3 separate regions of the Homo sapiens genome follow, and regions 2 and 3 are each linked to region 1. The links come from fine-mapping of genetic effects on gene expression. A gene starts in region 1. Each other region holds a variant in brackets. All regions are shown on one strand. Distances are between the middles of the regions.

Region 1 (8,184 bases):
ATTCCAATTTTCACCTGAAGGCTTGTATTTTATCATTGGCTACAATACTGGCAGTGGGTGTCCTTGAAATGACAGCCTCATTTTGCTCATTTTTGAGAAAATGCCTGCCAAAGACCAAGTGTAAAGTTTGTCAGTCACTCTCTTGATTAAAAATGGTCTTCCGTGAAAAAAGTGGCTAGTTCAGTTTGCAACTCTAGGAATTGTAAACATGCTTTTTCTTGAGTCAGTCATTATGCATGAATGTACAGCAGAAGTGATTTATTCCTATTTCCCATTTTATCATGTATAATATTAAAATGATCTTAAGGTCAAGATTTAATAATTTAATGGCTACCTCAAGGGCATTCTAAAGTGAAACTGATTTTTTTTTTTCCTATAGTGTATAGTTGTGAAGAATACAGCGACTATGAATATTGTGTACCTCGATTTGTGCTAAGGCACCATCAGTTTTCCTCACTGTTGCTTTTGCACTATTAGTGCAAATGTCAACATAGTGAAAAAGACACATAACATCTTATTATCATTATTGAATTAGTTTTCACTTTGAAGATTCCCTGAAAGGGTCTCAGAGACCCCAGGAGTCCACAAATCCCACTGTTAGAACTTCTGCTTTGGCTTACAGTCAATTCTGGAAGCAACATGACATGCTTCCAATAATCTCCCCTTCTCTGAAATCAACCAGATTTGGTTTTGTTGCCCGTTTACCATGTTAAAAATGTCCTTGTTTATGGTTATTTGAATTAAAATGTTTTTAAAGAACTCTAATTGAGGGCAATTTTTAAGTAAGCAAATGATTAGAAGGAAAGATTCTAAAGTTTCACGTTATGAAAAAAGTCTAACATTTATGCTTTCTACATTCTTGATGTTAGCATTAAACAATCAAGCATTGTTTAATGACTGATGTAGACCATCAGTCCACAAATTGTGGCAAAATAAGGAAAACAGCACTAATATTTTCTCTGTCCTATGGAAGCTTCCAGTGGCCTTGAGCTGGGTACTATTTGTCCCTACTTCAGATTTTTTTTTTTTTTTTGAGACAGAGTTTTGCTTTTGTTGCCCAGATTGGAGTGCAATGGCGCGATCTTGGCTCACCGCAACCTCTGCCTCCCGGGTTCAAGCGATTCTCCTGCCTCAGCCTCCCGAATAGCTGGGAATACAGATATGCACCACCACACCCAGCTAATTTTTATTTTTAGTAGAGACGGGGTTTCACCATGGTCTCGAACTCCTGACCTCAGGTGATCCACTTACCTTGGCCTCCCAAAGTGCTGGGATTACAGGCGTAGCCACCACGCCCAGCCTATTTCAGATATTAAAAACCTGGTATTCAGTGGTTAAATACTTGGCCAAGGCCATTCAGTGGTCAAACCTTTCATCCTGGCTAAGAGGCTCAAAGCCCAGGACCTCTTTGCTGTATCGTGCAGGAATTTCTGATAAGTACAAAAATAAGAGGCTGTGATAGCTGAGGTTTATGCCTTGGAGAACAGTTCTCCAAAATCATGGAATCAGAGGTGTTTCTTTAAAAACTTACTTTTATATATTCTATCATACTGATATGATGATGTTGACTCTCTACTAATGCAACATTTTTAACATACCAGAAGGTGATATTTCAGAGTTAGAAGAGACCTAAATCATGTGATCTATCCATATCTCTTATCACTGGGGCATATTTAACATGGAATGCATATTTAACATGCATTTCAGAAGTACCTTCTGGATGATGACTTCTGATAATCTGATTGTTGTCCATCCCCCCAGATCAAAATGAATTACACTGTAGGTGGCAGGCAGCTTCTAGGATGGCCCCAATGATCCCTGCTTCCTGATATTCATACTGTTGTGTAATTCCTTCTCCTTGAGTGTGGATAAAACCTGTGACTTGCTTCTAACTGATAGAATATGACAAAGGTGTGAGAATGTCACTTCTGTGATGAGGTTTCATAAGACAGTGACTTCTGTCTTGGTAGGTGACTCTTTCTATTGCTATCTTGACTTGCATACTTTGATGAAGCAAGTTGCTATGTTGGAAGGGCCCCATGCCAAGGAACTGAGGGCAACCTCTGGCCAACTGCCCCAAGGAAACTGAGGCTCCAGTCCAACAGCCAGTGCAGGGCTGAATCTGGCCAAAAAATGCTGATTGAGCTTGGAAGCAGATCCTTCCCCAGTTGAGCCTTCAGAGGAGACCCCAGCCCCAGCTGACACCTTGATTGCACCTTTGGGAGAGGCTCTGAAGCAGAGAACCCAGGTAACCTATGGTCAGTTTCCTGACCCACAGACTGTGAGATACTAAATGCATGTTGTTTTAAGCAGCTAGGTTTTAGGGCAATTTGTTATGCTGCAGTAGACAACTAATACACTGTACTATATTTGTCTCTTTTTCCAGCAGGACCAGAAATGGGCTGTTTAAGGTCCCTGGGACCTTGTCATGTCATGTGTATTTAACTGTTTACCCACCACCGAAAAGCTTCCTGCCAGGACCCATCTGCAGTGTAAAAGGGGAACCCTGAAGCCCTGGGAATGGCTCCTAGTACTTCAGGTAGGGGCTCTGTGTCCCCATCAGTTTCCACCTTTGGGCCTCCCACTAGAACTTCCTTAATTGTCTTTCTCCACCTAAGCATCATTTAGCTTACAAACCAGAGGCAGCAAGCCAATTATTCCCCGGAGAAACTTCAGCCAGGCAGGGGGGCATTAACCACACCAACTGGTGTTCCACAACAAAGGTATGAGAGGCAGAGATTCACATCCCAGTCCGGTTCGTAAGCAGAGGCGCATGAAATAAGAAACCCCTTTTGAGAAAGAGGGAAATTAGGGGAGATACTGAAATTATGCGTTGCATAGGACATCAGGCAACCACTTCACTGTCGGCTTCAGTTTTTGATCTGCAAGATGGGAGTCTACTTCTAGGTCCCATAGTTTTTGATTCTTAGTCTGACACAATGTGGGTTGCTGTGAGCTGGCTCTTTGGGTGCCAAGTCAGCTATCAAATGTGGGTAACAGAATACCTGTCTTCAAAGGGGGTTGTAGAATTAAATGAAATAAATAAAACACGTGAAACGTGTAACACAGGGCCAGCCCAAGTGTCATCGTGGCAGTTGCTGCTTCACCACGGGGTCTCAAGTCCCGAGGAATTGGGGTCGCGGGCGAGCGGAGCGCAGCCGGGACCCAGGCCGGGTGGCCTGCCCCGCCCACGTGGGGCCGCGGCCCGTCGAATGACTCCTTGCAACGTGTTGGTGGTGGCGGCGGCGGTGGCGCGGGCTCTTCCGGGCGCCGCAGCTTCCTGCCAAGCACCGCGCAGCCGCCTCCGCCGCAGGATCCCCCGGTGCAGGCCTCCGTGCTGGTGCGGATCCTGGAGCTCAGCCGCGCGCGCCCTGCCCGATCCTGTGCCGACCCACCGCACTATGCGCGCCGTGCCGCTGCCCGCCCCGCTCCTGCCGCTGCTGCTGCTCGCGCTCCTGGCCGCTCCCGCCGCCCGCGCCAGCAGAGCCGAGTCCGTCTCCGCGCCGTGGCCCGAACCCGAGCGCGAGTCGCGGCCACCGCCCGGCCCGGGGCCCGGGAACACCACCCGGTTTGGGTCTGGGGCGGCGGGCGGCAGCGGCAGCTCCAGCTCCAACAGCAGTGGCGACGCCTTGGTGACCCGCATTTCCATCCTCCTCCGCGACCTACCCACCCTCAAGGCAGCCGTGATCGTGGCGTTCGCCTTTACCACCCTCCTCATCGCCTGCCTGCTGCTGCGCGTCTTCAGGTGGGCCCTCCCGCCCTCTTCCTTCCCCCGCCGGCCGACAGGGCGGCATCGCCAACCTGCTGTCGCCGCGCGCCCGCCCCACCTGCACGCACAGGTGCCCTGGTGCGCCCCAGCCAGCCGTGTGCCTCCTGCCCTGCCCGGGAGAGTGGGTGGGGGGCCGGGGTGTGCTCGTCTGGATTTTCCTGGTACATGTTTTAGGAATTTTCTTTCCTCTCTTTAACTATATATATAAAATAAATATGTGGTTCCCATTTGTTGGCTTTCTGCTAATGCTGAACACTAACAATAGCGCTCTGAATTCTGACAGCGTTTCCCATAATTTATTTTTATAATCATTTCACAGATGAGGAAAACATTTTCAGAGAGGCAAAATGGCTCATCTAAGGTAAACTCAGTGGTGGAGGTAGGACTTGAACCCAGGCCTGTCTAACTTTAATCTCGCTACTCCCTCTCCCTTCTACCATCTGCAGCTCCCTCACGCCCCGCCTACTTTTTCTTCTTCTTCTTCTTCTTCTTTTTTTTTTTTTTGCTACTGAAAGAAGCAGTTTCTAGTGTGGGGGGTAGTAGAATTGCCTCCAGAATTACGCTGGAGGGGTGCTTTGCACCAGGGGTTGGAGCTGAGCTTCAGGATTCTAGGCGACCCTTGGTGGCCTCCCTTATTTTCTGTTGGTGGGGGACACAGACGGCTTTCCTAGGCTCCTGCCTAAGTTGCGCTAGATGAACATTCACAGGGGCATGAGGGATCTTGGAGAGCCTTTTGTAGGTTGCTCACGTTCAGGGATAAAGTGTCTGGTAAATTAGGAAGGATGTCCCAGGTCCTTGATCCCTGTCCATCCTGGTGGACAGGGCTAAGAGGAATGCAAGGACATTTCCTTTAATGCCTGGGAAATCCTGTTTTTGCAGGAAATGAACCAAACCTGTCCTGTTACTGAGGCCCGCCTGGAAGTCTGGGTGTGTGTGTCAGCTGTTCACTGCTGCCTCCCTCTGCTTCCAAGCGTACACACAGTGCTTTGGTGTTTGATCAGCTGTGGCAGGTTGGGCTTCAGGGCTTGCTCTCCTGGTAGCATTTTCAGTGCAACAGCAGAAACCAGACCAGGAAAAGGCAGAGTTAGGAGCCATCTATGTATTGAGCTTTGCTGTCAGTTGTGTGTGACTTTGAGTCCAGGTGTTTTCTTCTGTGTCTGTAGGATTAGATGCCAGTGGTCTGAGAAAATGGAGAAAGGGGAAGTATGGTCCCACGCTCACCTCACCATTCCCTGCCTTGTCTCAGGCCACATCGTTCCTCACTCTGCTGGTCTCCTTGATGTTCTCTGGGTTGAAATGCTCCTGTCTTCTTCCCACTCTACCCACTGGCCTCAATCCTCTGTTTACAAACTCTAGCAGCTCTCTGTGGCCACTACCTAGGCATGGCAATACCTGGGTGTGGCATTTGGGGCCCTTGCAAGCTGGCCCCCGTCTGCAACGCAGACATCAACCAGCGCTTCTGAGCCTAGTACCTTGTCACTTGCTCCTTATGCTCTGTGGTTTCCCGCTTCTAGCCTAATTCTTGCCTCTATATTCTACAAGTGCGTGCAGCCACCAAGGCCCAGCTCCCATCCTCCTTCCTCTGTATAGTTTTCCTGGACATTTGAATGAGGCTGTCACTATTTTCTGACCTCCTCATCCCTAATCTGTGCATCCTTCAGTCCAACCATGCCATGCTGGCTTCTGCACTCAGCAGAGGGCCCTTGAGGTTGGGAAGTCCAGTTCATCTTCGTGTCTCCATGCCCGATGCGGGCCTGCCATTCAGCAGAGGTGCCATTGTCATCTACGGACTTCCTGATTGTTCAGTTGGAGTGAAGGTTAATGCCTAGAGCAGCTCTGAGTCTGGAGGTTTGAAACATTTAGCTCAAAATAGGCCCTGGAGTCCACAAGGCTGTGTATTTTTTTTAGAAGGTATTTGAACAATTTTGCTAGTCTGCTGTTTATTACTCAGGAGTAGGGGAGAAAAGAAGGCAGCATGCACCCAGATGTGAGGGGTGCGAGACTCATGTTGGAGTGGGTAAGCCAGCACTCTAGCCTGGAAGAGATGGGTCTTTAGTAGCTTGGGTGTGGAGTGTTGAAAGAAGTTTACGACTTCATAGGAGAAGCTGGTTATGGACATGATCTGCGTCTCTTCCCAGGAAGGCAATCTTGTTAGGGTGAGTTTTCAGGTGGACAGCTGCCACCCCAGATTCTGATCTAGAGAGGACTTTGTAATATTTTACAGCTTGCAAGGGCCCTGATGGTGCACAGTCCCCATGTGTTTCTTTGCAGTTGAGAAAGTTGCATCCCAGGAAGTGGAATAAGTCATTGCTAGATTCTAGAACACTCTGCAAGTCTGTGTAGCCAAGGCAGGGCCAGCACCTCATCTGTGCTATTCGGTCTGTACTGTGGCCTTTCCCCTGTCCCACGCTCCCCTGTAACCTTGGTTAGTCAGCTAACCAAATGCCTGCTCTGCTGGCTGGGGGCCCTCCTTCCTTTCTCCCTCTGCAACTCCTTAGCCTGCGGGCACCGAGTCCTGGAAATTCCACCACCTGAGTCTCCAAGAGACTGTCTCACCTCTGCCCACACCACCTTCCCCAGTGAAGCTTCGCCACCTGCCGCCGTTTCTACCTTGTCGCTCCTGAATTGCAATAATATCTGTTAAGCTGGGGTTCGTGCCTCCAACCTTGTCCCTCTCCAGTCTGTCCTCCCTCAACTGCAGGAATGCCTGTCTCATCCTTCTTCTACCCCTCCCTGCCAATTCTCCCTGCATACAGACTCCTTGATGTGTGGGCAAGGCTGACTCTTCAGATCAGGGTGCTGCCTCCCTCCTGAGCCCCCATCTCGGCTCTGCTCAGTGCGCCTCCTGCTTTGCTGGACTTCCTGGGGTTCTCTGGAGGCACTGCGTGGCCTGAGCATCTTGTCCCACTCTACCCCTCTGCCTGGAGTCCCCTCTGTCACTAAGACTGCGTGGTCAGTTCGGTGCTGTTTGACCTCGTTGCTGTTGCCTCCTCTGAGAAGCCTCTGCAGCTAGGGCCCCTCTGTGCTTCCAAAGCACACTCGATTTTTGAATTCCCTCTTCAGAGTCAAGTGCCACCGAACTTCTTCTGAGCAGGACTAGGCATTAATCTTCTGTGTTTCCCTAATACCTAGTGTGGTTCCAGGCACAAGCTGGCATTTAATAAAGATATTTTTAGCAAAAGAATGTTGAGCTCTCAAGGATTTTACATTGCTGATGTCTCTCAAAATGTGCTAGACTAGCTGCATGACTGATGCTGGATACCTGCGAGGTAGGAATTTGTACAATGTAGATAAAGGAGAGTGTAGTAAGTATGATTGCGTATAAAATGGCAGTCCTAGCCTATTTCTCTGTTTTCTCTGAAGGAGTCACCTTACCAGACAACAGAAAAAAATTGGATCCAAGGAAATTAGAAGCAAAGAATGTGTCTTTTAATGAAAAAGATGTATACTTTTAATCAAGTGATTCCATTCTTAAAGTATGTACATTTTCCACTGCACTATATATTCTTTGCTTCTAATGTGAATGATTAGAAGAGAAAGCCAAGATGCAAGTGCAATGATATTCAGAGAAGCTCTGTTTGATAGTGAAAAGGTTTAAATAATCCAAGTGTCCAACAACTGGGCATTGGTTAAGCAAATCATGGCAATCTTTATGGCAGAATACTGTGCAGCTGTTCAAAATGATGACATTGAGATAATACTTGCTATATATTTTTGAGTCTGAAACAGGTCACAAAGTGACATGTATAGTATTAGCTCATTTAAATAAATTATAAACATGTATATACGAATGTGCAGATAAATCTGTGTGTCTGTGCATGTGGGTGATTATCATATTTTTTTATTATTCACGATATGTTTCTGCATAGTTTGAATTCTTTTACAATCCAGAAGCATGTAGTTATGATGTGTGTATGTTGAGTATCCCTGTGTGTATACTCAGCTCCTGGCCGCATTCTTGGATGTGTCTTTCTGAGGACCAGTATGAGAGCATCTGGGGTGTACACCTGGGAGTGGGGCTTCTGGATCCTAGGGGGTGCTCATTCTTGATTTCCTTGAGCAGGCACCAGTGTAGGTTTCCATCTGCAGAGCCTGAGGGTTCTCAGATTCTCACATCATATCCAACACTTAGTATTATCTTACTTTCTAATGCTTTCCAATCTGATGGGTATAATTTGGTATTCATTGCTTTATTTTGTATTTCTTCATTTTCTACCATAGTTGAGCCTCTGTCTCTTCCAAATGTTCTCCTTAATCAATCTGATTTCCCCATCTGTAGAATCACGTCCACCTTTTTAAATGTATTTCATCATTAAGGCAAACCATTTTTAGACAGGAGACAAAAATCGGAAGGAGGGAAAGCTGGCTGGAGACCGAGGGCCCTTTGTTGGGTACCTTCACATGTGTGAGAGTGG
Region 2 (8,184 bases), 150 kb before region 1:
ATTATTTACAGAAGCAAAAAACGAGCTGCATACAGCATATTGTGCCTGTAGTCCCAGCTACTTGGGAAGCTCAGGCTGGAGGATTGCTTCAGCCCAGGGGTTTTAGGCTGTAGCGCACTATGATCTCACCTGGGCAACACCTTGTCTCAAACAAAACAAAACAAAACCCAAAACCTATTTAACAAATCTGGTGTCCAATAAGAGAACTGTTAATGGTTAACTACGGCATACTCATCTGCTGGAATACTGTGCAGACTGTAAAACTCATGAAAATTCTTACTGATATAAAAAAGTACATTATACGTAAATACAAAATGTAGGTTATAAAACTATGTCTAGTATTATTTTAAGACAAATACAGTTGTACAGATGATTAGCTTAATAGTGGTTATTTCTTGGTAGTCACATTTTGGGTGATTTTCTTTGTATTTTTCATGTTTTCTGTTGAGCACAATTTGCTTCAGTAATATGAAATATAACAGTAATTTCCAAACGTTAAGTAAACAAGATAACAAATTGTACACACAGTATAATCCCCCCAAAACAAACTTAAGTCTAGTCTAAGAACGAGTGACTGCATTATTAGAGTATGGGTTCTTTTAAATTTTTTCTTTTTTTTTTAACTGAAGTTCTTAGAATAAGGTATTTTAAAATTTAAAATACATTTTCTCTTTTGTAACAGGAAGCCTATGTTAATGAAAGTCTGGAGACAACTTAAGACCTGAGGCTGTACTCTGAAGCTTGTGCTCCGGTATGCCAATGGCATTTGCAGAAAAAGTTGTCCGATATTTTATCTGAACCATATATACAAAATGAGACAAAAAAGGAGGTAGTCACTGCAAACTATAAGGACACAAATGGGGCAGGGTCCTTTGGAGGAAATGCTATGAAGGAAAGTTGCATTCTTTTCTCAGACTGAGGGGAGGGAGGGTTCCTGACCTTTCTAGATTAAAGGATTCTTTAGAAACTCTTTCCACCGCTTCTTTGCCAAACGATGGACGAGTCTGAAGTGAAGCCTCAGAGGGCATGGATACACAAAGGAGTGGCTAAAGGAAAATTCTCTTAAACCTCTGATTGGGTCAAAAATCCACCCTTAAGCCTTATAATAGAAGGCTTGACCACGCCCTCCGCCGCCCCCCTTCACATTACACCATTATACCATTAATAGTAATACAATTTTGATCACAGCACAGGTGTTAAAAATCCCTACCAGCCCGAAGAAACCATAAGGGATCTCTTCATGAAGAAAATAATGTCTTTTCCCCAGCTGTCACTGTCGTGTGCCCTCCATTGGAAGCCTTATTACATTCAGGCTTTTTTTTTTTTTTTTGATTACATTAACCTCCCAAACCTTTGGGAGGCAAGTATTACTATTTTGTTTTAAATAAGCAAGAAAAAGGTCACATTTCAGAAACATGCCAGTGGCCTCACAAATTTCTTAGCAAGCATGAGAGAATCCGAATCCCAAATGTAAGATGACACATTTATAAATAAAACCAAGGACAAATGTCTCCTTTATTCTAAATATACCATCACACTCTGAGTAGCTGGGGTTAACTATTTTTACCCACACCGGCTCTTTTGCATCTCAAACTCATGTAAAACAAAAACGGTGAGAAATGAAAATGGACCCTGGACCAACTGCCCCGGCGGAGTCAAAGGGTTTGTCTTTCAGCACTAGATCCGTGGACACGAAGGGGAAGCTGTGGGCCTTCAGCACTTGACGATTGTGCTTTATTTCTTGCATTTTGTAATACACAGCGACCGATGTCTAAATGTTTATTTCCTGAAAAGGTGTCCAAGGTGGCTGATATAAATTAACAGAATTTCAGATTTTAGCACACATTCAAGGTCCTAGGGCAGCTCCCATCTACCGTCAAAAAAAAAAAAAAAAAAAATTCCAGCATTTGGACAGGGCGGGGAAGGTACTTTAAAACCCAGATCATTGAGATTTTTCTCCTTCGTTTGGAGGAAGGTAGGGTTTGTTCTAACGCTTTGCACAAAGGCGGGAAACGGTCATCAAAGCTGTTGCGAAGGGAAGAGCCAATGCATTAATTCGATCCAAGAGGACTCGCCTCGTTGGATTTGCAGCAACCTAATCTCTCGCTCAGGAAGAAAACGCCACGATAAAGAGTTTTCTGTCCTCCTTGTTTGCACGGAGCAGCAAACGCAGAGACAAAAGAAACGGGCCCCGACTGGTAAGCACGCTGGCAGCTTTGCGGAACTGCGCCGCGGGATTCCCCGCAGGGCCTGGGTCGATGAACTCCGACCAGGCGGAGGGCGCGTCCGCTTGGCGCGGTTGTCCCCGCCCAGGCCCATGTTCAGTCGAACAGCCCCCACGGCTGGGTAAAACCACTCAGTTCATCTCGCCCGGCTCCTCGAACGCGGCCCTTTAAGGGGCTCGCAGCCTCAGGGACGCCGGGCTGACCCCGCCCCCGGCTGCCGCCATCTTGTTGTTTTCCCCTGTCCCTCCGGGCCGGCCACGTGGCACGGCTCCGCGGAAGCGAAGGCACCGCCCCAACTTCCGGCAGGACTGGTTCTAGCCGCCCGCGGGACGCAGACGCGCGGCTGCCCCCTGGCGGCTGGCCGCGGAGCTCCGGCCGCGCCCTGCCCCGCCTTCCTCCGCCATTTCATTCCCTGCCTGCAGCACGTCCGCGTTCCGCCACCAGCCTTGGCGCACAAGCGTGCTCCGAGGGCGGGGCCGCTCCGGGCACCACGCCTAGTGCGGGAGCGTTTTTTAGTCTGGTTCACCGAGGGCTAGAAGGTCACCTACATGTTTACACACATTTAATTTAATTATTAATTTTTTATTTTGTTTTATATTTTTGAGACAGGGGCTCACTCTGTCCCCCAGGCCGGAGTGCAGTGGCGCGACCACAGCCTTCTGCAGCCTCAGCTTCCGTGCTCAAGGGACGCGCCCGCCTCAGCCTCCCAACATGCTGGGATTACGGGCGTGAGCCACCGCCCGGGAACAACTTAATTAAAAAAAAAAAAGCCATACGGTTGCCTCGAGGTATTTTGGTATGCGGTGCTTGGTGCTTCCAGACTAACACATGAGGCCCCAACCTTGGTTTTCAGACCTGGCTTCTGCCCAGAGCCCCAAGCCATGTCAGACCAGGGCGTTTCCCAGGCGGTCCCGGGTCCGCAGTGCAGGGTGGCGCTGGGGGCGAGGGGGACGACGAGCGCGGGGTGGGCACGGTGCGGCCGGGGGGCTGGGGAGGCGCACGGGGCGGGGTGCAGCTCCAGGGACCTGGTCAGCACCCTTTACCAGTCCTATTTCTTGGTTTTCTGGACGTTCTTCTCTCCTTGGAGCTGCTCTTGTCTTTCCCATTTCATCTCCAAACCGATTTTGATTTCCTGAACGTTTGTCTTGAGCAAGGCCTGCGTTATCTTAGGTAATCCTCCTAGCAGCCTTTGATATGGAAGCTCTTTCTACTCACAC[T/C]GGCGCTCAGCAAGAGTAATTTGTTCATGGGGTAGAGCCTGGTTGGAATCGAGGGCACGTAAGTTTCCACTAGACATTGAGGTTCTCAGATAGTCCTCCAGCCAGGCAGCATCTCCAATGTCGGGGAGCTCGTTGGAAATGCCAGTGTTAGGAGTCTATCCCGGACCTTCTAAATGGGAAATTCTGAGGACGGTGGCGGGTGGGGCCCGAGAAGCTGTGATTACTAGGCAGCAAGGTGATTCCGAGGCACACTGAAGACCCCTTTCCCTCACAGCCCTTCTCAGGGTAAGGAAAGGGAGACTTGTCTTTATTGAGTGCTGATTCCATGGCATTTTGCATAATTCTGTGATGTAATCCTCCCTACCACTCTTTTATAGAAGAGGAAACTGTAGCTCAAACTTTCCATGAATTTAGAGTGCCAATATTTATGTAAAATGATACGATTGTATGTGCCTTTTGCTTGTACCATGTATGCATAAAATATCTCTGGAAGAATATTCAGGTGTTAACATAGTTTTACCTCCGGGGAGAGAAGGATGTAGGTTGCTAGGGTGACTGAGTTGGGATTTTTTTTTTTTTTGGTAAGATTTAGTAACTTGTGGCCGGGCGCGGTGGCTCACGTTTGTAATGCCAGCACTTTGGGAGGCCGAAGCGGGCGGATCACAAGATCAAGAGATCGAGGCCGCGCGCGGTGGCTCACGCCTGTAATCCCAGCACTTTGGGAGGCCGAGGCGGGCGGATTACGAGGTCAGGAGATCGAGACCATCCTGGCTAACACGGCGAAACCCTGTCTTTACTAAAAATACAAAAAATTAGCCGGGAGTGGTGGCGGGTGCTTGTAGTCCTGGAGGCTGAGGCAGGAGAATGGCGTGAACCTGGGAGGCGGAGACTGCAGTGAGCCGAGATCGCGCAACTGCACTCCAGCCTGGGCAACAGAGCGAGACTCCGTCTGAATAAAAAAAAAAAGAAATTGAGATCATCCTGGCCAACATGGTGAAACCCCGTCTCTACTAAAAATACAAAAATTAGCTGGGCGTGGTGGCACGCGCCTGTAGTCCCAGCAGCTCGGGAGGCTGAGGCAGGAGAATCTCTTGAACCCGGGAGGTGGAGGTTGCAGTGAGCCGAGATGGCGCCACTGCACTCTAGCCTGGGCAACAGAGCGAGACTCCCTCTCAATAAAAAAAAAAAATTTAGTAACTTATGAATTTGGACCATGTGAACCTATTACTTGTTCCAGGTAAAACTGAACAGTTGAAAAGTATGCTGGGCTAGGCGTAGTGGCTCAAGCCTGTAATTCCAGCGCTTTGAGAGGCCGAGGTGGGAGGATCGCTTGATTTCAGGAGTTTGAGACCAGCGTGGGCAACGTAGACCCCTATCTCTATTTTTAAAATATACTCTAAAGGCCGGGTGCGGTGGCTCAAGCCTGTGAGGGCCGGGCACCGTGGCTCCCAGCACTTCGGAAGGCTGAGGCGGGCGGATTGCCAGAGGTCAGGAGTTTCAGACCAGCCTGGCTAACGTGGTGAAACCGCCTCTCTACTAAAAATACCAAAAAAAAAAAAAAAAAAAAAAAAAAAAAGAAAATTAGCCAGGCATGGTGGCGCATGCTTGTAGTCCCAGCTACTCGGGAGGCTGAGGCAGGAGAACCACTTGAACGGGAGGCAGAGGTTGCAGTGAGCCGAGATTGCGCCACTGCACTGCAGCCTGGGCAACAGAGGGAGACTCCGTCTCAAAAAAAATAAAAATTATCTATCTATCTATCTATCTATCTACCTACCTACTTACATACATACACACTAAGATCTACCTACCTGCCTACCTACATACATACACACTAAGAACAGTATTAGAACTAAAACCAGAATTTGAATTGAGGTCTGACTGGCTCCGGATTCCATATCCTCTCATGATTACACATGAAAAACTGTTTTAAACATAAAATGCTCTGCCGGGCGCGGTTGGTCACGCCTGTAATCCCAGCAGTTTGGGAGGCCGAGGCCGGTAGATCACTTGAGGTCAGGAGTTCAAGACCAGCTTGGCCAATATGGTGAAACCCCATCTTTACTAAAACTACAAAAATTAGCTGGGCGTGGTGGCACGTGCCTGTAGTCTCAGCTACTTGGGAGGCTGAGGCAGGAGAATCGCTTAAACCCAGGAGGCAGAGGTTGCAGTGAGCTGAGATAGTGCGACTGCACTGCAGCCTGGGCAACAGAGACTCTGCCTCAAAACAAAAAAGCTCTATAAATTTCAGGTGTTGTTATTAATAATGAAATATTAAATTATTTCTTAGGGCCAGGCACCATGGCTCATGCTTGTAATCCCCACACTTTGGGAGGCCAAGGCAGGAGGATCGCTTGAGCTCAGGAGTCAAGACCAGCCTGGGCAACATAGTAAGACCTCATCTCTAAAAAAAATAAATAAACTATTTCTTAGAAATGTAGTTCCTGTTTAGACCTTTGAACAATGACCATGTCTAGTGGTCTCTCCATAGCACATGATGTATAAAATTGTTCTTATTTTCATTACTAACAGCTACAAAATAACTATAAAGTAGATCATAAATATGCCATATGTAAATATGTATACATAGTGCTTTTATTTTTATGTGGAATCTAAATCAAATATGTGAAGAGCTTCTTGGGTTGGGCATTTATTCTGCCACTTTTTAAGGGGCATTGCAAAGGCAATTCAGGGCTTTGTGACTTTGGACATGTAACTTAACCTCTCAGCGCTTCAGTTTGCTCCTTTGTAAAACAGATTTGTAAAAAGTGCTTGTTCCAGGCTGGGCTTGGTGGCTCACTCCTGTAATCCCAGCACTTTGGGAGGCTGAAGCAGTGGATCGCCTGAGTCCAGGAGTTCGAGACCAGCCTGGGCAACAAGGTGAAATGCCCTCTCTACTAAAATTACAAAAATTAGCTGGGTGTGGTAGCGTGTGCCTGTAATCCCAGCTACTCTGGGGGTGCTGAGGTGGGAGGATCGCTTGAGCCCAGGAGGTCGAGGCTTCAGTGAGCCCAGATGGTGCCATTGCACTCCAGCCTCGGCAACAGAGTGAGACCCAGTGTCAACAAATATATAAGTAAACAAATAAATAAATACATAAAGTACTTGCCTGTAGGCTTGTTGTGAGGTTGGATTGTGTCACGGTATATACCTTATTTGGAATATTGCTTGGCACAGTCATTGTTAGATAAATAAAAAAAATCAAAAGAGATGTAGAAATAGAAGTTTGATGAGAGTTCAGAGGAAAAAGATTTCTTTTTCTTTTTTTCCTGAGGCGGAGTCTTACTCTGATTCCCAGGCTGGAGTGCAGTGGCACGATCTTGGCTCACTGCAACCTCTGTCTCCTTGGTTCAAGCGATTCCAGAGGAGAAAGATGTTAATGTTTGTTTTGTACCTAGAACCTCATCGCTGGATGGGATTGTAAAGATCTGTGACTATTTTACACATTTGTTCTTTTTTTTTTTTTTTTGAGACAGAGTCTTGGTCTGTTGCCCATGCTGGAGTGCAGTGGTGTGATTTCGGCTCACTGCAACCTCTGCCTCCTGGGTTCAAGTGATTCTCCTGCCTCAGCCTCCTGAGTAGCTGGGATTACAGGTGCACGCCACCAAGCCTGGCTAATTTTTGTATTTTTAGTAGAGACGAGGTTTCACTCTGTTGGTCAGGCTGGTCTCGAACTCTGACCTCAGGTGATCTACCTGCCTCGGCCTCCCAAAGTGCTTGGATTACAGGTGTGAGCCACTGCACCTGGCCTCCCATTTATTCTTAGCAGTAACAGTTGGTCCCTGAAATTAGGAAACTGACTCTATTGTGATCTTCCAAGAGCTACATTGTCCAGCCCCTGGGCCTGTACATCCTTATGGAGTGAAGACTGACAGTTTTCCCTTAGGTCAGTGGAGCTACAGTGGCGTGTTGGAGTCAGCTGCTCAGAATGATGATGCACTTTTCTTTCCAACTTTGGTTTCAATGACATCATGTTGGTAGCTTGAAACTGGCCATAGCAGGGGTATTTACACCACAGGAATAGGTAAACACTACATATTAAGGCTTTTCCCCTTGGAGATGCCTTGTTAAATATTTACCAACACTCCACTGCCTGTTACAACACAGCAAAAGCCCCTCTGAGAGAAGGCCAGAGAATGTACCTAACTCCTCCCAGGTTGTCCAGTGTTTCATTGTCCCTGGACTGAAGAGTCCCTCAGTGGCCTTTGCTGAGATATTTCAACACCCTAGTCTCTTAAACTGTAAACAAAGGAGAGTCATGAGTTATTTCTGGGTGAGTCAGTCCAATATTGCACAAGCATTTCTGGGGGTAGTAGAGGGGAGGCAAGAGGGAAACTGGGTAGGCTGGGGAGCTATCTAACTGCCCAAGACACTTGAATCCTAAACAAACGGGAACTAAATGAGAGGTGGGAGGGACATAGTCTTTTCTGACGGGAACTGTCTGTGACTCATTCTCTTTCAGGAGTCAGAAACTCCAAAACCTGTGGGAGTGGGGAGGGGCGAGCAGTGCGGTTTTTAGAGAGGTGTGGAGTTATTATAGGGACTCTTAAAATTCTTCTCCCTTGCTCAGTGTGGTGACTCATACCGGTAATCCCAGCACTTTGGAAGGCAGAGGCAGGAGGTTTGCTTGAGCCTAGAAGTTCAAGACCAGCCTGGGCAATGTAGCAAGACCCCAACTGTATAAAAAATAAAAATAATTAGCCAGACATAGTGGTGCATGCCTGTAGTCCCAGCTACTTGGGAAG
Region 3 (8,184 bases), 130 kb before region 1:
GATTACAGGCGTGAGTCACAGTGCCCGGCTTTTCTTTCTCTCTCTCTCGCTCTTTCTCTCTTTTTATTTCTCTCTCTCTCTCTGTGTGTGTGTGTGGCCTCTCTTTAAAATAGCAGCTATATCTAACTTAAAAAAAGTCTAGTCTGAAAAATCTTTGCCTTTTAATTTGAAAGTTTTTCCCTTTAAGTTTACTGCAATTGTTGATTTATTTGGATTTATTTTCTACCACCTTATTATAGTCTATTGTATTTCTTCTGCTTTTTCTGTTTGCTCTTCTCTTCCACCACCACCTACCTCTTGGCTGATTAATGGTTTTGTTTTTCCTCTTCTTCTAGTTTTTTCTTCTTAGAATAACTATTCTATGTCTCTATAAGAATATCTATTCTTTTGGTGGTTACCTTAGTTATTCTGAGGTACATACTAAATAAAATTTAAGATTAATGAATTTCTAAGTTCTTTCAGATAGACCTTAGAATGTTTTAGATCAGCATCTTCAAATTGGAGTATTTATGTGTATGCATTCTGCAAGGTGTATGTGGATTTGTTTTAAGGAAATACATTTCCAAATCTCCTTTTTTTTTTTTTTGAGACAGTCTTGCTGTCACCTAGGGTGTAGTGTGGTGGCGTGATCTTGGCTCACTACAACCTCCACCTCCCAGATTCAAGTGATTCTCTTGCCTCAGCCTCCTGAGTAGCTGGGATTACAGGTGTCCACCACCACACCTGGCTAATTTTTTTTGTATTTTTAGTGGAGACGGGGTTTTGCCACGTTGGCCAGGCTGGTCTCGAACTCCTGGCTTTATGTGAATTGCCTGCCTCAGCCTCCCAAAGTGCTGGGATTACAGGCATAAGCCACAGCGCCTGGCCCAAATCTCCTATATTTATATGCACTCTTTTCTAAAATTGATCTGCCTTGGGAACTCTCCTGCGATAAAGTTGCAGTTTCCTTTCCCACTTCTTTCATAATCTCCCTTTTCCTAACTCTTGTCTATCCTGAATCTAACGATAGTACATTGGCCTAGGTGTACAAACCTTTAAGCTACCAATAAAGCTTTAATTAAAAAATATTGGCAGCTTGCTGGGTGCGGTGGCTCGCGCCTGTAATCCCAGCACTTTGGGACGCCGAGGCGGGCGGATCATGAGATCAAGAGATCGAGACGATCCTGGCCAACATGGTGAAACCCTGTCTCTACTAAAAATACAAAAATTAGTCGGGCGTCGTGGTGCAAGCCTGTAGTCCCAGCTACTCAGGAGGCTGAGGCAGGAGAATCACTTGAACCCAGGAGGTAGAGGCTGCAGTGAGCTGAGATCGCACCACTGCACTCCAGCCCGGGAGACAGAGCGAGACTCTGTCTCAAAAATATATATATATTTGCAGCCGAGTATAGTGGCTTACCCCTGTAATCCCAGCCTTCGGGAGGCAGAGGCAGGAGGATTGCTTGAGCCAGGAGTTGAGACCAATCTGGGAAACATAGTGAGACCCCGTCTCTACCAAAAAAAAAATAAACAAAAATTAGCTGGGTGCAGTGGTGTGTGCCTGTAGTCCCAGATACTTGGGAGGCTAAGGCAGTAGGATTAAGTGAGCCAGGGAGGTTGAGGCTGCAGTGAGCCATGATTGCACCCCTGTACTTCAGCCTGGGCAACAGAGCGAGACCCCCTTGCCCCCAAAATATGTATAATACACACATATAACATATATATGTATATATGTAACACACACATATAACATATATATGTATATATGTAACACACATATAACATATGTATATATGTAACACACACATATAACATATGTATATATGTAATACACACATGTAACATATATATGTCTGTATATATAGTTAAACAAAAATATTATATAAAATATATACACGCTAGATTTTCTCTTAAAAAAATTTTACATTTTTTTACACTGTTTTTTCTTTCGTTCTTTGTGGTTTGTGTGTGTGTGTGTGTGTGTGTATGCAGCAAAGCGAAACAGTGATATTGGGATTGCAGCAAATGAAAGTGAATCATTTATTGCAGGGCACCAAGCAAGGAGAATCAGGCAGCTCATGCTTAAGATCCAAACTTCCTGATGGCTTGTAAGCAAAGGTTTTTAAAAGCAGGGGAAAATTTCAGGAAAGGAGAAGTTACAGGCAAAATTGTAAATGAATACATGGAGATTATACATTGGTTTGGCCTTAGAAGATGGAATATCTCGAAGCAGGGTTAGAGGGTGGTGCTTAGAGGTCCTAGGTAGATTCAAAGATTTTCTGATTTGTAGTTGGTTGAGGAGGAGAAGCTTTCTTTAAAAAGCTGGGGTCAGCAGCAGAAGATGTGAGCACTGCCTTGTGGGTGTGACTTCCTCCAGGCCTCTCAGGAAGAACTTCAGGACAAAGAATGGTAGTCAAAGTGCAGTCCTCAGTTTGCCCCTTAGCTGAGGTCTACGTGCCAGCGGATCCATTTGGTGGGAGTTCTGAAAAACTCAGGGACATATGTTAAGTTGTTACGTAGGGAACCAACACCTTGTGACTCTAACTTCCTTGGCTATTGTTTGAAGCTACTGTTAACTTTCTTTTCTTTTCTTTTTTTTCTTTTTTTTTTTGAGACGGAGGAGTCTCGCTCTGTCGCCCAGGCTGGAGTGCAGTGGCGTGATCTCGGCTCACTGCAAGCTTTGCCTCCTGGGTTCACGCCATTCTCCTGCCTCAGCCTCCCAAGTAGCTGGGACTACAGGAGCCCGCCACCAGGCCCGGCTAATTTTTTGTATTTTTAGTAGAGATGGGGTTTCACCGTGTTAGCCAGGATGGTCTCAATCTCCTGACCTCGTGATCCGCCCGCCTCGACCTCCCAAAGTGCTGGGATTACAGGCGTGAGCCACCGCGCCCGGACATTTTTTTTTTTTTTTTTGAGAGGGAGTTTCACACTTCATGCCCAGGCTAGAGTGCAATGGTGCAATCTCGGCTCACCGCACTGTCCGCCTCCCGAGTTCAAGTGATTCTCCTTCCTCAGCCTCCTGAGTAGCTGGGATTACAGGTATGCGCCACCACACCTGGCTAATTTTTTGTATTTTTAGTAGAGACAGGGTTTCACCATTTTTGTCAGGCTGGTCTCGAACTCCTGACCTCAGGTGATCCACCTGCCTCGGCCTCCCAAAGTGCTGGTATTACAGGCGTGAGCCACCGCACCTGGCCTATATTTGCATTTCTAAGGGACTAAGTGGGAAGTGGGGAACCAGGGGAATGAGAAAAGAAGGGAGAGAAACAAACTATCTCTTAGAAAAATGAGGGGCACTTGGTTACAATTCCTCACTCAAATCAGAGGTTAAGAGTTCATATGTGTCACCAGGAGCTTGTCACCAACAAGCTGGGTTCTTGGCTGCCAGAACCAAGCCACTTCTACTGACTTTGGCTGATAGATGCAGAAGCACTTGTTCTTTTAACAAAGGCTTGTGGACGTAAGAAAGGCTCAGTGTCACTTTCCAGATAACCCAAAGAAATATTTATTCCTGGCTCTGAGCAGGTGGCAGAAGTGGAAGAAGCTGAGATGTGGCTGTGAGTCCTGACTTCACTGCTGTCCAGCGGAAAGAGTCTGAGCAGTCTAAACCCGAGGTTTCGCCAGTGTGAAATGGGGCTAATTATATAGACATATGGGTTTTACAAAGTTTTGACAAATCAGAACTTTTGTTTTATATGCTGGGTTGAAATCAAGGACCTGCTGGGTCTGTTCCTGCTACTTGTGGTTGGGTGGGGGAACAGAGGATAGAGAAGAAACTGTTCATCTCAGGTTGGAACGTGCCAGGTCTTCAGCCTTCCAGTGGCTTTTTAAAAAAACATTTTTATTTATTTATTTTTGAGACAGAGTATTGCTCTGTTGCCCAGGCTGGAGTGAAGTGGTGCAGTCTCGGCTCACTGCAGCCTCCGCCTCCCAGGTTCAAGAGATTCTCATTCCTCAACTTCCCGAGTAGCTTGGATTACAGGCATGTCCACCACAGCCAGCTAATTTTTTTTTTTTTTTTGAAATGGAGTCTCACTCTGTTGCCCAGGCTGGAGTGCAGTAGCGTGACCTCAGCTCACTGCAACCTCTGCCTCCTGGGTTCAAGGGATTCTCCTGCCTCAGCCTCCCCTGTAGCTAGGACTACAGGCGTGTGCCACCATGCCTGCTAATTTTTGTATTTTTAGTAGAGACAGGGTTTCACCATGTTGGTCAGGCTGGTCTCGAACTCCTGAGCTTAGGTGATCCGCCCACCTCGGCCTCCCAAAGTGCTGGGATTACAGGTGTGAGCCACTGTGCCTGGCCTTTTTTTGTGTTTTTAGTAGAGACGGAGTTTCGCCATGTTGGCCAGGCTGGTCTCGAACCCCCGACCTCAGGTGATCACTTCAGCCTCCCAAAGTGCTGGGATTACAAGCATGAGCCACCAAGCCTCGCATATCCAGTGGCTTTTGATGGCTGAAGTGCAAGTCACACCCCCTCTCTGAATTGCACCAGGCCTACAATTCACCAGATTTGCCAGGCTGGGTGGAAGGATATGTAAATCTGACTCAATTCACAGCCTCTCTTAACACTTCAATCAAAATTGCATCTAATTGAGGTTCATTCATAAACCTCATTGA[C/T]GTAAACAACTGCAAACATGGAGGAGCCCTCCCCAAAGCTTGATAATTACTTCACGATGAAAACTCAGCTGTCAGAACATCATTGTTGCTATGACAACTATGAGAGAAGCTGGTTGCCCAGGGTTACCCATGTTACCAGATGTCACTGGTGCTTGAGTGTTAGCTTCAAATGAGCCTCAGGAGCATAATGAGAAAAGGCAATGAGAACTATATAAATGGGTCTGAATAAGAGAACGTCTTTTTTTTTTTTTTTTTTAATCTTAAACCCCAATAGATTCAGGAAGTATCTATCTCATTACAGGACAATTGAGTTATATCTTGGAACCAGGGAGTCCTAAAATGACCTATCCTCTAAAAGGCCTTTCTTTCTCTTTTTAAAATTCTTTGTTAAATTTTTAATAAGTAATACACATATGTGCTTCAAGCTTTAAAAAATACAAAAGGCGGCCAGGTGTAGTGGCTCCCACCTGTAAACCCAGCACTTTGGGAGGCTGAGGCAGAAGGATCACTTGAGGCCAGGAGTTCAAGACCAGCCTGGGCAACCTAGTGAGACCCTGTCTCTTCAAAACTAAAAATAAAGAAATTACTCTCTGGTGCTTCAAGCAACATCTCTGGAGAGTCGTGTTGTGTGAATTGGTTTGTATACATTAGTATGTGTATGTATTCACACATTCATATACACTCAGGATACAGTTGGCCTAATTATCATTGGGGCCATAGGTAAAACTTATGAAGAATGTTCTCATGCTGAATTGTAATTTTCTTTTACCTGTAAAGTAAAATTTAGATCAATCCCATGTCTGTGTTTATTTTGAATATCATAGATATGCTGTACATTTAAAGAGGCAATGCTACTGGGATTATGTAGGTTCTAACTCATTTTAACAAGGGCACTGTCAGGCCTCTAAGCCCAAGCTAAGCCATCATAACCCCTGTGACCTGCATGTATACATCCAGATGACCTGAAGCAACTGAAGAACCACAAAAGAAGCAAAATAGGCAGTTCCTGCCTTAACTGATGACATTCCACCCTTGTGATTTGTTCCTGCTCCACCCTAACTGAACAACTGACCTCGTGACATTCCTTCTCCTGGACTGAGTCTCAGGAGCTCCCCACCAAGCACCTGGTGACCCCTGCCCCTGCCCACAAGAGAAAAACCCCCTTTAACTGTAATTTTCCACTACCTACCCAAATCCTATAAAACTGGCCCACCCCATCTCCCTTTGCTGACTCCTTTTTTGGACTCAGTCGGCCTGCACCCAGATGATTAAAAGGCTTTATTGCTCACACAAAGCCTGTTTGGTGGTCTCTTTACACGGACGTGCGTAACCAGTACCTGACCTGCGTAAGATAACTTGAGGCCAGGCGTGGTGGCTCATGCCTGTAATCCCAGCACTTTGGGAGGCTGAGGCGGGCAGATCACCTGAGGTTGGGAGTTTGAGACCAGCCCGACCAACATGGAGAAACCCCATCTCTACTAAAAATATAAAAAATTAGCCAAGCGTGGTGGTGCATGTCTGTAATCCCAGCTACTCGGGAGGCTGAGACAGGAGAATCACCTGAACCCAGGATGCGGAGGTTGTGGTGAGCCGAGATCACACAATTGCACTCCAGCATGGGCAACAGGAGTGAAACTCCATCTCAAAAAAAAAAAAAAAAAGACTTGAATATTGTATTTCTTAGGACTATACTAATATTCTTCTCACAAAAGGTCTATAAAATATTATTGCTGAAAAGTATTTTGTATCAAAATGTTTGCAGGCTGGGAGCGGTGGCTCACACCTGTAATCCCAGCACTTTGGGAGGCCAAGGCAGGCAGATCACTTGAAGTCGGGAGTTTGAGACCAGCCTGACCAACATGGAGAAACCTCATCTCTACCAAAAATACAAAATTAGCGGGGTGTGGTGGTGCATGCCTGTAATCTCAGCTACTCAGGAGGCTGAGGCAGGAGGATCACTTGAACTTGGGAAGCAGAGGTTGCAGTGAGCCGAGATCGTGCCATTGCACCATTGCACTCTAGCCTGGGCAACAAGAGAGAGACACCATCTAAAAAAAAAAAAAAAAAAAAGCTTCTCCCTAACCTGTATTGATATTCACTTGAATTATTATTTTCTAAAATTAAGAGCCCTATGACTACCTGTAAATCTTTTCACATATCATTTAAAAGTTTGTATTATTATTATTGATTTACAGCTTAATTATTATTTTTTCTTTACAGGGATGCCATTGATGTGCATGCTTTTATGTTTTTCAGAAAAGGGTATGTTTGGATGAAAGTAAAAAAAAATAAAGTAAAATCTTTCACTGTGAAAAAAAAAATTGCAAGGGTGTAGTGGCACATGTCTGTAGTGCCAGCACCTGGGGAGGCTGAGGTGGGAGGATCACTGGAGCCCAGCAGTTCGAGGCTGCAGTGAGCCATGATCATGCGACTGCACTCCAGCCTGGGTGACAGAGTGAGACTCTGTCTCAAAAAAAAAAAAAAGCCAAAGGTATATGGGGAAGTTCTTTTCTCCATCCTTACCCTACCGCACATATGCCCACTTCCTATCTTGCCCCAAAGGTATTTTTGTGCCTATACAAATCAATACAAAATATATTTTTCCTCTGCTTTTTGCGTAAAACAACATATACATGGAAGAATAATATATTATGACATTATATATAATAAAATATATTATGACATATATAATAAAATATGACATTATATATAATATCTTATGACATTATATATAATAAAATATATTGTGACATTATATATAATAAAATATATTGACATTATATATAATAAAATATATTATGACATTATATATAATAAAATATATTGTGACATTATATATAATAAAATATATTGTGACATTATATATAATAAAATATATTGTGACATTATATGTAATAAAATATATTGTGACATTATATGTAATAAAATATATTGTGACATTATATGTAATAAAATATATTGTGACATTATATGTAATAAAATATATTATGACATATATAATAAAATATATTATGACATTATATATAATAAAATATGTTATATGATGAAATATGATAAAATATATGATAAAATATACTATATGATAAAATATATGATAAAATATATATTATATATATTACATATAATATAACATAATATATTACATATAATATAATATAATATATTACATATAATATAATATATTACATATAATATATAATAATATATATCACATATAATATAATATATAATAATATAATATATCACATATAATATAATATATAATAATATAATATATCATATAATATAATATATAATAATATAATATATCACATATAATATAATATATAATAATATAATATATCACATATAATATATAATAATATAATATATCACATATAATATAATATATAATATAATATATCACATATAATATAATATATAATATAATATATTACATATAATATAATATATAATAATATATTATTATATTACATATAATAATATATTATTATTATATTTATTTATTTATTTATTTACTCTGTTGCTAGGCTGGACTGCAGTGGCATGATCTCAGCTCCTGGGGTCAAGCGATTCTTGTGCCTCAGCCTCC

The links. PIP is the estimated chance that this variant, and not a neighbour inherited with it, causes the effect.
Region 2: its variant is fine-mapped to the expression of FAM174B in whole blood (TOPMed, PIP above 0.99).
Region 3: its variant is fine-mapped to the expression of FAM174B in whole blood (TOPMed, PIP above 0.99).

The regions. Positions count from the first base shown.
Region 1 is chr15:92,650,877-92,659,060 of GRCh38, reverse strand. FAM174B (family with sequence similarity 174 member B) reads left to right here and starts at 3,286. Exons shown (of 3, transcript NM_207446.3): 1 at 3,286-3,745. The coding sequence starts at 3,402. RefSeq lists silencers at 3,110-3,159, 3,440-3,639, 3,740-3,789, 3,840-3,909.
Region 2 is chr15:92,803,660-92,811,843 of GRCh38, reverse strand. LOC124903558 (a long non-coding RNA gene) reads left to right here and starts at 1,960. Exons shown (of 2, transcript XR_007064767.1): 1 at 1,960-2,198; 2 at 2,835-3,939. RefSeq lists enhancers at 2,175-2,294, 2,231-3,081, 7,353-7,402 and a silencer at 2,455-2,694. The variant T/C (reference allele first, on the strand shown) is at 3,443.
Region 3 is chr15:92,777,459-92,785,642 of GRCh38, reverse strand. LOC101926994 (a long non-coding RNA gene) reads left to right here. Exons shown (of 3, transcript XR_001751667.3): 3 at 5,417-5,577. Among named protein-coding and RNA genes, the nearest start is that of CHASERR, 100 kb to the left of the region's middle. The variant C/T (reference allele first, on the strand shown) is at 4,593.